Homo sapiens: one gene and its partner. The protein of the gene in region 1 interacts with the protein of each later gene in a biochemical or structural test. Each region holds a gene or a part of one and is shown in the gene's direction. Other genes may lie near its edges.

Region 1 (8,706 bases):
GCAAAAACTTGATCCTTCTTTCCTTTAGTATTAAGTGGAAAGGAACAATGTTTTCTTTTTTTTGTTTGTTTGAGAGGGAGTCTCGCTCTGTCACCCAGGCTGGAGTGCAATGGCCTGATCTTGGCTCACGGCAACCTCTGCCTTCTAGGTTCAAGCAATTTCACCTGCCTCAGCCTCCCAAGTAGCTGGGACTACAGGCACGTGCCACCATGCCTGGCTAATTTTTGTATTTTTAGTAGAGATGGGGTTTCACCATGTTGGCCAGGCTGGTCTTGAACTCCTGACCTCAGGTGATCCACCTGCCTTGGCCTCCCAAAGTGCTGGGATTGCAGGTGTGAGCCACCGCACCTGGCCTTTTCTATTAACATATATTGACTAAAACTATTAGTAACTGACTTAATATCATATTTATAAGTGTTTATAAGTGTTTTTCCTTAAATGGTAACCAATATCATAAATTACTTTAACATGTTAATGTGATGTTACATTCTGTCTGAATATTTTTTATACTTTTTTTTTTTTTCATTGACATAGGTGTCCATCCTGGTCAGAAGATGAAACTCTTTGTGCCCGCAATGTTAACAATGAAGTTCACTTCTTTGAAAACAACAATTTTAGTATGGAAAGATTTATGACATAATTTTATTACTTACTGTAATCGTATACAGTTTCCATTAACTTTTATGACATCATAGGGTTTTCCTAAATACTGTTAATCTATTAATCAATAATTACTCTTACATACATTTGCATAATTCTTTATAAGTCTGAATTCAGTGAAAATCTGTAACACAAAGGTTTTCTTTTACAATAACTTTTTATTATCTGGTAATTGCTATTAAGACATTTGAATATCTTTTCCTGAATTTAATTGCTATTGAAATTCTGTGACACAAATTTTTTAGATATTTTATCGTGTAGAATTTTAAACTTCAGACACCTAGTTCTAGTAACCATCAGCTTGTGGCCAATCTTATCTCATCCATACATCTCTCCAGCTACCATCTCTTACTAAGTGAAAGCAAATCCCAGATATGGTTATACTTTTATATACTTGTTAAATATGTAATTGTAAATATTTCAGAGTAGATTTCTGAAGATTGGGGCCTTTCATTTTTTAAACTTAGCCACAAAACCATTATCACAAATTATTAAATATGTGTTCAAATTTCTACTAATTGCAAATGTTACAATTTTTTTTAAAACTCGGGATCCAAATAAGGTACTGCACATTGTGGTTGATTGATATATCTTTTATGTTTCTTTTGGTCCTATAAGTTCCCACTCTATCTGTTATTTTATTCTTCATAATTTATTGTTTAAGAAACAAGGTTATTTGTCTTTCACGTTTTCCCATAGTTTGAATTTTGCTTTTGTATCCCATGGTATAATTTAACATGTTCATCTGTCCCCTATAAATTGCAAGTTGGCTCTAGAGTTTCAGCTTCAGGTTCTTTTTTAGGTGAGTAAGGGTAAGACTACATTATAAGGTGATGTTCACTTCTTTTATCAAGAAGCACATAATGTCTGGTTGTCTTTAATTTTGTAGGCTTAGCTGACATTAATGTTTCATGCCTGGATGCATTATTTCATCAGTGGTTGCAAATTGTTGATACTCTGGTTTTTTCTCCCTCACTTATTTTTCAGCTGTACTGCTTCTATAAAGAAAAATTTCCCCTTCTACTATTTGGTTACCTAGTGCTGCATTTATATAGAAAAGGCGGGATAAATATTCTTGCTCTTATCAGTTTTAATATAATGTATTCCACCTCTAGCAACCTTCATTGTAACCAATTAGCTTTTTCCCCATTCTTGTTTTTCGAGAGTGGGCCTCATTCTTTTGTCCAAGCTGAGTGCAATCATGGCTCACTGCAATCTCGACTTCCTGGGCTCAAGCAATTCTCCTGCCTCAGCCTCCCAAGTAGCTGGGACTACAGGCTTGCACCACCATGCCCGGCTAATTTTTGATTATTTGTAGAGACAGGATCTCATTATGTTGCCCAGGCTGTTTTTTAGTTCCATTCTTTTTTTTTTTTTTTTTTTTTTTTGAGATGGAGTTTCGCTGTTGTTGCCCGGGCTGGAGTGCAATGGTGCGATCTCGGCTTACCGCAACCTCTGCCTCCCAGGTTCAAGCGATTCTCCTGCCTCAGCCTCCTGAGTAGCTGAGATTACAGGCATGTGCCAACATGCCCGGCCAATTTTGTATTTTTAGTAGAGATGGGGTTTCGCCATGTTGGTCAGGCTGGTCTCGAGCTCCCGACCTCAGGTGATCCACCTGCCTCACCCTCCCAAAGTGCTGGCATTACAGGCGTGAGCCACCACGCCTGGCCTTTTTAGTCCCATTCTTAATGAGCTGTGGATTTAAAAGGTATGTGTTTCAGTCCATTGTAGTTATTTTTCTTATTGATGCTCAAATTGTCTCATCTTTGATCAATTAATCCTTAGTGACTTCTTTGCTATATGGTAAGACAAGTCATTCTAGGATTAATTTGTACATTTCTAACCATTACACCTAGAACTGGCTAATTTTTCAGGAAACCCTGTCGCCTTTTTGGTGTGCTACTTTTGAATAGCTATTGATCTCTGAAATTGAACAAAGAAAAAGTATTAGCTCTTGATCTCATTGAAGGAAACATTAAAAGGTAATAGGGTTTCTTGAAAAATTGGCTGAGTCTAGCAAAAAAAAAGGTATTTAGGTTCTAGAGATTCTTATTTGCTGTTGCATTGATCATTGTTTCTAGGCCTTTTTTTTCTATTTAAAAGATGTAACAATCATAATTTTATTTAAATTAAAGTTTTATACGTATAGTTTTATTTAAATTGAAGACTACAAGGTTTTTATTTAACTTCTATCTTATTTGTATTGCCTTCTGTCACCACCAAGAATCTTGTTACTCTGGAATACCAGGGATGATAATTTGAGAATATCACATTCACATAAGTATTCATTTGGTTTGTTCCACATTATCCACAAGGTATTCTTACAATCTTAATACCAAAAAGTAACACTGTTACTGAAAATAATTTTTTAAAAAGGGTTTGCAGTTCTTTTGTCTTTAGAGCATCCCATTACTGATTGTACAGTTTTGAGTATATCATAGTTAGAATAGGAATTGGTAACTTTGTTCACACGTACCAAAGATGGCATGTAGGCTGATTTTGAGCAGCATCCAATCAGTATAGTTATGCATTTTATTTTCCTGTGTTTGAGGCGCACTGTCACCTCACTGTTTCTGGGTTAGCTTGCTTTCTTGTCTTATTCTCCTCTTTGTGAGCATGTCAAATGAAGAGGGATCACCACTTTGACAGTTTGGTGTGCTGCTTTTGAAAAGCCATTGATCTCTGAAATTGAACAAAGAAAGTATATTAGCTCTTGATCTAATTAACTAGAGTGGCAGTTTTATTAATAATAGCATGGCTCAGACTGCCTGGAATAGAGTAAGCTCTTAATATCAGCCATTGTTACTGTGGTTGTGATCATCATTATCATGCATCTGTTTATCACATTAAGTTACAGAATTTCCATATCCACATTCTGCAGTAGCAGGCCAAGGTTGATCTTTTCCTTCTAATAGGCTCTAAGACCACTTTATTTCAGCGATTGAAGAGAGGATAACTGACATTTATCAAATACCTACCATGTGCCTGGCACTCTTCTCTTAAAACCAATTACTGAGAGTTGGGTGGTATAATCCCATTACTTGCCTAAGCTCACACTGCAAGTAAATGACTGAGTAGAAATTGAAGCCTACATTTGTCTTGCTCCTACCCCATGCTTTTTCCACTGTGTTACTGTATCTCACCAGGAGGAGACTACAGTGAGTAGTATTGGTGTGTAGTTATAGTGATCTTTGATAATGTATTCAGAGTTTAACATGTTCCTTTTAGGTTCTCTCATCAATCTGATTTAATTTACTCTTTTTTTTAGACACAATTGCAAATAAATTGCATTTGCAAAAAATTAATGATTTTGTATTATCACCTGGACCCCAACCATACAAGGTAATTGCTGTTTTTGTTTATGTGTAATATTATGTGTTTAAACCTTTTCCTAGTTTTTTGTGATTGTAAAAACATGTCCATCTCAGTTTTTATTCTTCAAAAAATTAAGTAATGATTTATGTCTATGTATCTTAGGTGGCTGTCTATGTTCCAGGAAGTAAAGGTGCACCTTCATTTGTTAGATTATATCAGTACCCCAACTTTGCTGGACCTCATGCAGCTTTAGCTAATAAAAGTTTCTTTAAGGCAGATAAAGTTACAATGCTGTGGAATAAAAAAGGTATGTTAAGTATATTTTATCCCTCCCTTTGTTTATCAGTTGTTAATTTAGGCTATATTCCTATGTGTATAACAGAAGAATCAATGCCCATTTGTGTTTTAAATCTAATTAAAGTTTTTACTGTTATAGCTACTGCTGTGTTGGTAATAGCTAGCACAGATGTTGACAAGACAGGAGCTTCCTACTATGGAGAACAAACTCTACACTACATTGCAACAAATGGAGAAAGTGCTGTAGTGCAATTACGTGAGTATTCCAGCAGTCTTCCTTTGATTAGAAACAATGATAGTAAAAAATACTATGCCATAAAGATGATATAATCTAAATTCTTGATCAAAAGATAGAATTCATATGCCTTAATAACCTTTAAGATAAAATTTTTCTTAATTAAGAAACTTAAAAATCATCCTCCAACATACCTTATTTTGGCAGAATACAATTAGTTATTTGAGTTACGCCATCGTTTTAGAAGTGAACTTCCTGAGTAAGGTAATTCCATTGTAGTAGCTCTTTTGGAACTTACTTAGCTAATTATGACGGCAAATTGCTTAATACTGTCTTTAGAATTGTTAGTAATATGCAAGAGGCCAGGCATGGTGGCTCGTGCCAGTAATTCCAACACATTTTGGGAGTCTGAGATGGGAGGATCATTTGAACTCAGGAGTTCAAGACCAGCCTGATCAACATAGTGAGACCCTACCTCTACAAAAAATAGAAAAAGTTAGCCAGGCATGGTGGCGTATGCCTGTAGTCCCAGCTCCTCAGGAGACTGAGGCAGGAGGATCACTTGAGCCCAGAAGTTCAAGGCTGCAGTGAGCTATGATCATGTCACTGTACTTCAGCCTGGGTGAAAGAGCGAGACCCTGTCTCAAAATAATAATATCCAAGAATGTTACCACTTCATCTGTTGTTTTAATGAACTAAAACTTTAAAATAATAGTTTTAAAATACTGATAGCGTCCTAATTTTCTCATTTTGAATTGAACATGTGTAAGTAGGGTAATCTATGTTTTAAAAAAACTATTTCCATTGAAGTCAGAGAAAAAACAAGGATGGCTCCCCTTTTCACTTTATTTTAATAACATTCTGAAATACCTAGTCACTATAATCAGCAGAAGTAAAATATATACAGTTTTGAAAGAAAACAAAATCATCTCTGCTCATGTAGATGAAGTCACACTATAACAGCTACTTTAAAAAAATGAAAGATTCCATATATAGCAAAAATAATAAGAACAAATATATAGGGCCAATGAGAAGAAAACTTTAAAACTCTTCAGAGAGACAAACTATGACCTTTACTAAGAAGAATTATTTTTATAAAGATGTCATTTCTCTCTTGTCAGTCTAAAACTAAATTTAAATGCTAACTGATTTTTTTTTTTTAACTAAATAAACTGGCTGTAAGGTTGGTGTTGAAAAATGAACACACAAGAATATTTTGGAAACTTGTGTAAAAGAAGAGCAGGGCAGGGGAAGTTATCTGGAGTTCTGACACTACCAGATATTAAAATGTACCCAGCACTTTGGGAGGTTGAGGCGGGCAGATCATGAGGTCAGGAGATCAAGACCATCCTGGCTAACATGGTGAAACCCCATCTTTACTAAAAATACAAAAATTAGTTGGGTGTGGTGGTACATGCCTGTAATCCTAGCTACTCGGGAGGCTGAGGCATGAGAATTGCTTGAACCCAGGAGTGGGAGGTTGCAATGAGCCAAGATCGTGCCACCGCACTCCAGCCCGCTGACAGGGTGAGACTCTGTCACAAAAAAAAAAAAAGTAAGCCAATTGTAATTAAGACAGTTTGGTTGTGGTATATGGATATACTGGTAAAACTGATAAATCAGTGGAAGAGAACAGAGTCCAGAAGTAGATCCATACTTTTGTAGACATTAATATATAATAAAGTCAGCATTTGAATCAATGGAGGAGAAAATATTGATCATTTAATATGTGGTTTGGGATAACTGGCTAGCCATTCGAAACAAAAGGTTATTATCTTCTTCACAAAATAAATTCTGGTTGGGTCAAAAACTTATACATAAGACTGCAGAGGAATTAGAAGAATATATGGGAGAATTTTTTTTCTAATCTTAAGAGTAGAAAAAGACTTTTTAAACAAGATAGAAGTACTAAGGGGAAAAAATAATGAATTTGACTAGAGAAGAATAATGGATTATTACAATGAGAGAAGAAAAGAGTCCATAAATTAAGCAAAATGAACAAAAAGTTGGGGAAAATATGTTTTTTAAATAGTCAAGTGATAAGTATGAGGAAGGTCAAATTTTCTTAATATATCAAGTAAGCCAAGTAAAAGACCAATAATTGGAGAAAAATAAAATAGGCATAGGATAGTAAAAATTAGTCCTCAGAGCCGGTGCAGTGGCTCATGCATATAATCCCAACTATCTAGGAGGCTGAGGTGGGAGGATTGTATGAGCCGAGAAATTTGAGGCTGCAGCAAGCTAAGATCCTACGGCTGTACTGCAGTCTTGGTGACAAAATGAGACCATCTCTTTAAAAAAAAAAAGAAGAAGAAAAAAAATCAGCCCATAGAAAAAGAAATAAAATTACTTACAGTAAAAGATGCTTAACTTATAATTTAAAAAATACAAATGAAAACAAGATAGACATTTTCACTTAGTAGGCTGATGAAGATAAAAATATGAAACTACACAGTATAGTTGAAGGATAGTGAGGGGGAAGCCTGCATCATCAAAAACTGCTGACAGAGGCTGGGCACGGTGGCTCATGCCTGTAATCAATCCCAGCACTTTGGGAGGCTGAGGCAGGTGGATCACCTGACGTTAGGAGTTCAAAACCAGCCTGACCAACATGGCGAAACCCCATCTCTACTAAAAATACAAAATTAGCCCGGCGTGGTGGCTCATGCCTGTAATCCCAGCTACTCAGGAGGCTGAGGCAGGAGACTTGTTTGAACCTGGGAGGCAGAGGTTGCATTGAGCCGAGACCGTGCCACTAAACTCCAGACCGGGCAACAAGAGTGAAACTCCATCTCAAAAACAAAAAAAAATTCTGAAAGGATATCCAAGAAATATAACAGAGGGTTGCCTTTGTGTAAAATGACCTGTGTTTGTGGCTTTTTTTTTGAGATGGAGTCTCGCTTTGTCACCGAGGCTGGAGTGCAGTGGCACGATCTTGGCTCACTGCAACCTCTGCCTCCCAGGTTCAAGCGCTTCTCCTGCCTCAGCCTCCTGAGTAGCTGGGATTACAGGTGCATGCCACTGTGCCCAACTAATTTTTCTAGTTTTAGTAGAGGTGGGGTTTCATCATGTTGGCCAGGCTGGTCTCAAACTCCTGACCTCAGGTGATCTGCCCACCTTGGCCTCCCAAAGTCCTGGGATTACAGGCGTGAGCCATCGCACCTGGTCTTATGTGGCATTTTTAAAAATATAGGGCCCAGTGGCTCATGCCTATAATCCTAGCACTTTGGAATGCCAAGGCAGGAGGATCCCTTTAGCCCAGGAAGTCGAGGCAGCAGTAAGCTGTGATCATGCCACTGCACTCCAGCCTGGGCCACAAAGTAAGATCCCATTTCTATAAATAAATAAATAAACAAATAAATAAATAAATTAGTTTGTATTTTGATTACCATCTGCACGTATTACCCCTTCCAAAAACAAATTTATTAATAGTAACAAACTATTACTATAAGGCCATATTACCAAAATGTTTAAAAGAAATTAAGATTCAATAGGGGTTCTTAAATAAATTTATGATTATACATTAATCCCCCTAGTATATAATGTAAGAGTATTTTAATGTTAACATTCCTTGAAATTTTTTTATCTGTTTGATGTGTTTGTGAGTACTATATGATGGTAACTTTTGCTAACAAATATTTATATAGTTCTTTATTGCTAATTTGGGCTTTATATTCTTTTTCTAGCAAAAAATGGCCCCATTTATGATGTAGTTTGGAATTCTAGTTCTACTGAGTTTTGTGCTGTATATGGTTTTATGCCTGCCAAAGCGACAATTTTCAACTTGAAATGTGATCCTGTATTTGACTTTGGAACTGGTCCTCGTAATGCAGCCTACTATAGCCCTCATGGACATATATTAGTATTAGCTGGATTTGGAAATCTGAGGGGACAAATGGAAGTGTGGGATGTGAAAAACTACAAACTTATTTCTAAACCGGTGGCTTCTGATTCTACATATTTTGCTTGGTGCCCGGATGGTGAGCATATTTTAACAGCTACATGTGCTCCCAGGTTACGGGTTAATAATGGATACAAAATTTGGCATTATACTGGCTCTATCTTGCACAAGTATGATGTGCCATCAAATGCAGAATTATGGCAGGTTTCTTGGCAGCCATTTTTGGATGGAATATTTCCAGCAAAAACAATAACTTACCAAGCAGTTCCAAGTGAAGTACCCAATGAGGAACCTAAAG
Region 2 (8,706 bases), on another chromosome or scaffold:
CAGACTAAACATATACTTCCTAATTTTTTTCCAAGTTTGCACCCAGCGTTCATGAGAACATAGCAGTGAGTAAACTGTCCATGTTACTTTGATCAGGGAAGGCCCTTTGGAAGAGATAAGTATTGAATTGAGTAAGTCTCAGAAAAACAATGGCTATGCCTCAGTGTCAGAAAGTCAAGGATATTTCTAAATGAATGCTTTTTATCCCAGCAGCTCATCAAGATTCCTTCCCTGTACCCACTAAGAGACCAAATATGAGAATCTGCCTATATTAAAGATAATTGCTGGCCTGCTATGTCTAAGGGATATTTCGAAAATGAGGTCATATCCTCATAGAATATCCATTGTATTATTGGACTGTGGCTCTGCCATTGAAAAAATGTGAATCTTCTTCCCAGTTCCCTCACAGGTCGACTATACTGCTTTGTTCCTACTGTTCTGTTCCCCTCACCCCATTGGGCACAATATGATGATAAAAGGTGTCAATCCTGAAAGTCAGTCTTTTCTAAGCAACCCTCCAGGTTACTGTTATAGTTCCAGCAGTGTCGGCTCTGTACCTCCCACGCAAGTGACGGCTTTTACTCTCCACTTCTGTTCTAGCAATATGCTCCCCTGCTGGCCGTGTTCAGCTCCCAAGGCCAGTCAGAGCTGATCCTCCTCCAGAAGGTTCAGGAATACTGCTACGACAACATCCATTTCATGAAAGCCTTTCAGAAGATTGTGGTTCTCTTTTATAAAGGTATCCATCCACGTGCCACTGCTGTGCTTCTGTGTTTTGCTGAAGCTCTTTGAGAGGCAGAGCAGGCAATGAGGCAGAGGAGGTCATGGGGCTCTGTTTAGAGAGGGACAGCAAGATGCTAATTTGTGAAAGTTTTATTGAGGCAACCATACCATGTAGAGAGAGGAGGCATACACGCCATATATGCGTTGCCTTGGAAACCCTGCTTAGGCCCCTGGGCACTTCTCATTGGTAGATGAACTGGTAATTGTTTCTTGGGGTTGGTGGAAAAAAAATGTAATTATATAAAATTGAGCCTGTTTTTGAATTGTAAGGATTAGCTCTAATAACAATGATTATCAAAATAGTATATATATTATGTTCAGACTCTTTTAGGTACCATAAATCTGACTTTAAAATTACTGAAGTAATTAGCCTTTTTACTTTGTATTTTAGTTACTTGGCCCAGCCATTCTCCTGTTTTCCAAGGGAATGGCTATTTTTAGGTTTTCACATTTACTGTCTTTTCATTGTATTTATAAGGATTAGGTTGCTATGACAACTGGCACTAAAATATGAATGCTAAAGGTTTTAACCGATCCCAATCTGTATACCTACAGCATACAGAAATGTCCTAGGCTATTTTTTGGGCCTACATTTATGTAGTTTTGTGAGGGAGAAAAAGGAACACTTAAGAAGTGGTACATTTTGAACATTATAACATGTTTATTTTATGTTATTATGTTCATAAATATCATATCAGAAAAGTTAAAATAATACCAGCCAAATGTTTATTTTCCCTTTCATGTGTTCCTAAATTTGTCTCTTTTGAATTATATCTTGGGAATTTGGAAAATAAAGGTTTTAGATAAATAATAGCTCTTTTAAAAATGCTTAATAGCATTTCACAATGAATTTTTATTGGCCACGTAGATTCCTCAAATGAATGAATCTTGTCCACAAGTGTTTGGGTGATATTTTACTTTTTCAGGGCACAGAGGTATTCAGCAACAATTATAATAGTCAGGAGGAAAATATGATGGCCACCCATTGCCACTTGAAGTTCAGTAATTGGTATTTTCTCCAACCAGACCTGAGTTGGGTCTTCTTGGATTTAGTCATAAGATAGCAGTGTCCTAAAACTAGGCCCCACCCAATGATACCCAAAGTGATCCACCCATCAGAACCAAACCTGCAAGCCATGTTACCAATTCATAGATGGTACCCAGCAGCCAAGAACGAGAAGTGGGGCCCAACCTTCTGTGGCCACAGCTGGCTCCATTTGTAAAACTGGCAGAGAGACCTATGGGACAGGTTTCACATTTGTTTTGAGGGTGGTCAATTTTTTCCACTACGGAAAACCAAACTGTTCGTAAACTAGTTAGTTACCTGAACATAGTTTGCTTTCTTGTCATATAAAAGATAACCCAACCAGTGTTTCTCACCAATTTTTTTTTTTAACTGAGACATCGTTGTCGGAGTCTCATCTTCAGGAGCACCCTATCGTATTATTGTAATGAAATCACAAAGAATCAGCAAACCCATTGTTACGGGAAATGACATCTAGGTGGCACATGAACTATTAAAATCCTTCAGATTTCTCATTTTAACCACTAATGCCAACCTCCTTTTCCTTTAGACTTAGACTTCTTATAACAACTACTGACAGGTAGTAAAACTGGCTACTTTGAGTTTTTTCTTCTTCATCAGCCCCAGATGCTAAGGGTCAGTATGACCTGAAATTAGAAAATAACTCAAGAAGTAAGCACTAGGAAGTAAAAAGAAGAGGCATGAGCTCTTAGGCTCATTGATTAACTAGGTAATCAGCGTTTAAATAACCTAAAGTTAGTGAGGTCTGTGGCAAGTATGACCTGGCCCCAGGGAACACAGGAAGGGTGAGTGTCAACATCAATTTTATTTCTGCCTTAGTTATTTTTGGAAATGAAATTGGGAAACTTTTTTAAAAATGTAAACCTAAAACACATCACTGAACTAACATTTTCAATACCATTTTCTAGGTAATTTTGTAATTTTCCACAGAATGATATATATAGTCTGTTTTCTTAAGTGAAATGATTCCATGTTTTCTCTGGAGAACATGCAATCCCTGAGGAATGATTGTTCCATACCACCGTTAAGAGCGTTACTGTGTTAACTATGTTTACCATCTTGTCTCTTTTTTGCCAGATTTTTACTTTCACCTTATTTTGTCCACCAAACACTTGTGCACCAGGAGACATGTATTTGATTTGTTTCTGTAAAGATTTGGATGCTCTCATTCCGTGTTTTATATGCCTAGAGGGAGACTTAGTAAACAGTGAGTGTTAAAGCACTCCTTTCCTAATATGCCTAAGAATTACCCAGAGAGCTTGTTATAAAACACAGCTCCCCCAGAGATTCTGATTCAGTAGGGCCAGGGTTGGGCCTGAGAATTTTCATTTTAACAAGTTTCCAAGCTGATGCTCTGACTGTTGTACCAGGACCACTGGTGTAAAGTGTATAGCATTCAAGAAGCAACAGATGCTATGAACTCCAGTGACATGTTCAAGATTATACTTACCTTTGATTTCATGTACATACCCACATTTTACACATATGGAGTAGTGTCTTCTCTGCTTCTTTTACCAAGTTTCTGTGGATTCCTTTTGTTTGTCATAAGGAACGTAGTGCTCTAAAACAAGTTTTTAAAATGTAATGGAAACCGTTGCTCCATTTTAATTTTCATTTTTATCTCTCTCTGACACACAGAGCACACACAAACATATACATGGACACACACACACCTCCCCTTTCCCAACATGTCCAGAACTTGATGATAGCAGAAACTTGGGCATATGATTAGCCATGTCCCCCTTGGCAAATCTAATTACTTAATTGAATATCATTATTGAAAGATTTATAAATCTTTTACATAAATAACAGTGGAATAAAAGCAAATAAACTAAATAATGCTAGTCAGCAAAGAAAAAAGTGGTGATGGGTCATTTTGCAAAGACTCTCTGTATTAAAATCTAGATTTGCATATTTTTAAGGTAGTAAGAAACAGTAAATCCATTGCTAACTTTCAAGCATCACATTATTGACTTTTAAAAATAATTTTCTCTTCTTTTTTCCCTGAAGATAAGTCCCATAGACTCAGCATGGTCTAAAATGTGTAAAACTACCTTGTCAAGTACTGTTATTATCTCTATCATGGGTTTTCTTGTTTGCAGAAATTTTTTAGGTTAAATTCTATCCTGCATGCAAATTTTTCTAAAAGGAGTTTTTTATTCTAGTTCTAAAAAAGGGTGAGTGCCCTTCTCAGCATATATTCCCAGCATTCTTAGGGTAAATTATTTTTGACTTGTGTCCCTATGTGACATTCCTAATAAAAAAATTTCTGAATTTCAAGAGTTTCAAGTGACATAGTTTCAGACTAAGTTTCTAAATAACTAACATGATCTAAAATTTAGCAGTTCTCAAGCCACTTTTACAGTATTGTCTCTTCGATCCTCATGAATACATTAGAACTCTACAAATTGAGAAATATTTATTTTTTCTCATCAAGTTAACAAATTTATTCCTTAAACGTGTGTTGAATCGATACTATAGGGCAGGTCTTTCATTAAATGCTGGAAATGAGATGAACAAAATATAGTCCCTGACTTCCTGAATTTCAGGATGTAGAAGAAAACAAAGAATTACACTCACCATGTCAATTGCTGAAATAAGCCTCACACAGAGGGTGTCAGAAGGGATAGGACCACAGAGGGAGGGCACCTAACTTGTTAAAGGTAATTTGGAGGGGGAGAAGTGAAGGCTCTCAAGGTACATGTATCTCACCAGACATTATGAAGAAGTTGGCCAGATAGAAGGGGAAAACATATATTCCAGTCTCTATGTGCCATCATACAATGTCTTCCTTTCTTACTGTCTTTTACTGTTATTCTATATTCCTAATAGGCATTTATGAAATATCCCACCAAAAATGGTTTCTCAGTTTTAATTAACTCTTTTCCCTACTTTATCCTTAGTGAGGGAAAAAATTGTCTGAATTCTTTGTCCCTCAAGGAGTTCCTTCCTTTTCAGACCTTTCCTTTCACTAAATAGAAGTTTAATTTCTTCTTAAACTCTTCGATGTTCATACTTTGCCTCATATGGTGCTCTGTGTAGATACTTCAGTAGCTTTTAATTAATAATTCTCTGGTACTAGAAGTTTGATCTTTCAGCAAGTAGTTGTTACTACCCTGGGTTCTTCTAAGAACTCCACATTGCGCCGTTAATATGTAGACTTATTTTAAATTCTCCTTCCTATTCTTAACATTAAATATTCTCAATTAATGGTAACTTAAGAATATCAAGGCACAAGATTTGCAATAAACAATGCATTTGATAGGTTTTACCTATCATTTAGTGTGCTTTTCACAAGCACTGACATTGACAAGCATTTTAGTAGTTGCATGGTCTCCTTCAGCCTCTGTGAGGCAATAAAACACAGGAATGTGCTCTCAACCTTCAAAAGGAAAGCTCAGACAAATAGTATCACTAAACTGCAGTCTACATCAGCTTTCCAACCTGTACTTTGTATCATCCTCAATTCATTAAGGTGTGGAGAAAAAAAACAATTCTCCTTTCCATGTTTGTCACAGTTTAAAATTATATTGTTTGTGCAGAACATTAATAATGATAGTTTAATAGTGCATGAATATAATTTATAAACTCAAAAATATACATATGTTGGGTGTATATGCTCAAAATTATCCTACAGGCAGGAAGACATGATCCAAACAGTTTGATAATTACTGATCTAATCATAAGCATCTTAAAGATAATTTACAAGTTATATAAAAGGGTCTTTTAAAATCCCTGTTAATGTTCTTTAAAAGTCTCTGCAAGGCAGTCTTACACAATAACAGGTCACTTCCTCGGGACACAACTGCCTGCTCCTCAGCTCTATGACAATTAGGCTCTGATGGCTGGTAGAAATTTCTTTTATCTCAGTGGAGAGCTGGAAACAAAGAGCTAAAATAACTAGAAGCTAAGAATAAGTCTACAGGACCCCTGATTGTAGCTCTTACATCCAGGCTCTATAAGTAAATCCAGACTTCTTGCTTCCTTTGCAAAATGTAATGTTTTTAGTGATGATAATAAACATGTTTTTTTAAAAAACCTTTTATTTTCATAAACAAATCATGTTCATTTTAGTCAGCTCAGCCTCTTCAATTTAATTCAAGAACATTTTCCAAGAGCCAATAATTCTTTAAAAATAAAAAAAGCCAATGTTTTTGTTATGAAACTACCAGTGATGTTTTAAATGAAAACAATATTAAATTGTTTCTGTCATTTTCATAAGTTGAAATTATATTTTAACTGAAAAGATATCATTAAAGTAATTTATTAACATTATATGGCTTTATCAGTATTTGTAATGAATTGAGCACATCTCGGGGACAATAATAAATGCTTTGTACCTGTTTTCTGTCTCGTTTCCCACTACAGATTCCCAAACAACAACCCATTAGAACATTGGAACATTAGAAGAATGTTAGAACAACCCATTAGAACATTGGGAGACTATGTACACTTATTTTTATATTCTCCTTCCTATTCTTAACATTAAATACTCTCAATTAATGTTATGTTGAGAATATCAAGGCACATTTGTGGAATTTAGAGTTTTAGACAAAAGATAGTTAACATTTTTTGTTGTTTTTAGAAACCTGTAGGAAATTAGCTAATATGTCTATTTTGTCTTAATGTAGTAGAGGAAAAATATTACTCTTGTAATTTGGGATATACTGTGGGAAAATAAGTCGTGATTTAGTGATGGAGAAAGTGTAGAACTTCAGTTTAGGTGTGTATTACTCCCACAACATAGCCCAGAAGTTCCTCTTTATATCTAATTGCTAACATCATTATTGCATACTATCTACATTTTTTTCCTTTGTCATTTTTCTCCTAAAAAAAGAAAATCCCAATCTCCTTAAAAGACACTGGTCATTTGAGGTTACTCTTTAATCAAGATATGGTTGAACTTGGCAGGACCCAAAATGTTCTAAAATGCTGGAATTGCTGGTTCATTTGCAAAATTACAAAACAATTCTATTTCCTACCAGCAAATTAGCACTGTGAGAGATTTCCAAGTCCTAGTAGTGAGCTATAGGCTTGCATTATATCATGCCTAAGAAGATGTATATCATCATCATCAGTACTTAAGCCTTTAGTAAGCTATCAAAATATGGCACTATGCTACATGAAAATCAACTTGGTTCCTCTCTTCTGATAAGTAACAGAATGCTTTATATTTAAAATGATTGCTTTCTATTAAACTGTAATACATGAAGTTGTTTTGAAACATGACATTTGTATAGTAACTTTGAAATCTTTGATTTAAAATTGCAGCTGATGTTCTGAGCGAAGAAGCAATACTGAAATGGTATAAGGAAGCACATGTTGCTAAAGGCAAAAGTGTTTTTCTTGACCAGATGAAGAAATTTGTTGAGTGGTTACAAAATGCAGAAGAAGGTATGATTCTGTTTACAAACATTGATGACCTTTAAACACTGTCTCATTATATGTCAAAATATTTACCTCTTCCACAGATTTTACTTGATTTTCTAAAACTAAAATTCTAGAGTTATCTTTCGTATCAAACATTTTGCCAACATCTTAGCTTTCCTTTCTGAAATCACGGCAATAAAAATCTCTACATGTAAAAACAAAGAAAGAAATGAAATGCTTAAATTATCCACTCTGATGGAGGACAATAAGGAAGAAATGATTAGTAGATGTGAAAGGAGAAAAATACATTTAGCTTAATCACGCATTATGGAATTCTATAGATTTTTATGACACCTTTACCAATTAACTGGCAATTTTAAATAATGGAAATATAAAGTGGAAGGATAATAATGAGTAAGAGTGAATTCAGGCCAGGTGTGGTGGCTCACACCTGTAATCCCAGCACTTTGGGAAGCAGAGGTGGGTGGATCACCTGAGGTCAGGAGTTTGAGAGCAGGCTGGCCAACATAGTGAAACCCTGTCTCTATTAAAAACACAAAAAAATTAGCCAGGTATGGTGGCTCACGCCTGTAGTCCCAGGTACTCGGGAGGGTGAGGCAGGAGAACCACTTGAACCAGGAGGCAGAGGTTGCAGTGAGCCAAGATTGCGCCACTGCACGCCAGCCTGGATGACAGAGCAAGACTCCATCTCGATAAATAAATAAATAAAGTGAATTCAATTAAGAATAAAAAGTTCAGGCCAGGCACGGTGGCTCACGCCTGTAATCCCAGCACTTTGGGAGGCCAAGGCGGGCAGATCATGAGGTCGGGAGATCGAGACCATCTTGCCTAACACAGTGAAACCGTGTCTCTACTAAAAATATAAAAAATTAGCCGGGCATGGTGGTGGGCACCTGTAGTCACAGCTACTCGGGAGGCTGAGGCAGGAGAATGGCATGAACACAGGAGGCGGAGGTTGCAGTGAGCCAAGATCACAGCACTGCACTCCAGGCTGGGCAACAGAGTGAGACTCCATCTCAAAAAAAAAAAAAAAAAAGAATAAAAAGTTTATCTTAGGTGATCCAAAGAAGAAAAGTTATATTGTTTAATTTTATATATATTCAAATTTTTATATAATTTATATGTATAAATTTAATATATATAAAATGTATTCATTTATAGGTATTTGTATATGTATGCATGTTGCATTTTTAGACAGGCAAAATTTACGTGAAAGCAGAAAAGAGCAAGAGTTTGCTATCTGCCCTCATGTGACTATTTTACCTTATAATGGGTGCCTAGGGTAAAAGTATGCTGGTGCAATGGCAGGGTTCTGGGTTGGTGACTGTAGTAACTTTTGACCTTAATTAGAGGAATCTGGGAGGAAATATCTCACTTCTTTCTTCTCTCCTAGAATCCGAATCGGAAGGTGAGGAAAATTAAATGGCTCAACAAGCACAATACCTAGGTTACCACACACCACTTTTTGATTGGGAATGCTGAACCAT

Evidence for each region. The genes of interacting proteins can lie anywhere in the genome.
Region 2: the proteins of EIF2A (region 1) and BZW2 form a complex in vitro, tested with the Homo sapiens proteins (one study listed by BioGRID).

The regions. Positions count from the first base shown.
Region 1 is NC_000003.12:150,563,765-150,572,470, forward strand, and holds part of EIF2A (eukaryotic translation initiation factor 2A), read left to right. Parts: intron 1-534; coding exon 535-617; exon of another isoform or gene 618-3,342; intron 3,343-3,928; coding exon 3,929-4,002; intron 4,003-4,137; coding exon 4,138-4,282; intron 4,283-4,411; coding exon 4,412-4,528; intron 4,529-8,193; coding exon 8,194-8,706. UniProt on the Homo sapiens protein: Functions in the early steps of protein synthesis of a small number of specific mRNAs. Acts by directing the binding of methionyl-tRNAi to 40S ribosomal subunits.
Region 2 is NC_000007.14:16,697,448-16,706,153, forward strand, and holds part of BZW2 (eIF5-mimic protein 1), read left to right. Parts: intron 1-600; coding exon 601-739; intron 740-7,099; coding exon 7,100-7,222; intron 7,223-8,612; coding exon 8,613-8,641; 3' UTR 8,642-8,706. UniProt on the Homo sapiens protein: Translation initiation regulator which represses non-AUG initiated translation and repeat-associated non-AUG (RAN) initiated translation by acting as a competitive inhibitor of eukaryotic translation initiation factor 5 (EIF5) function.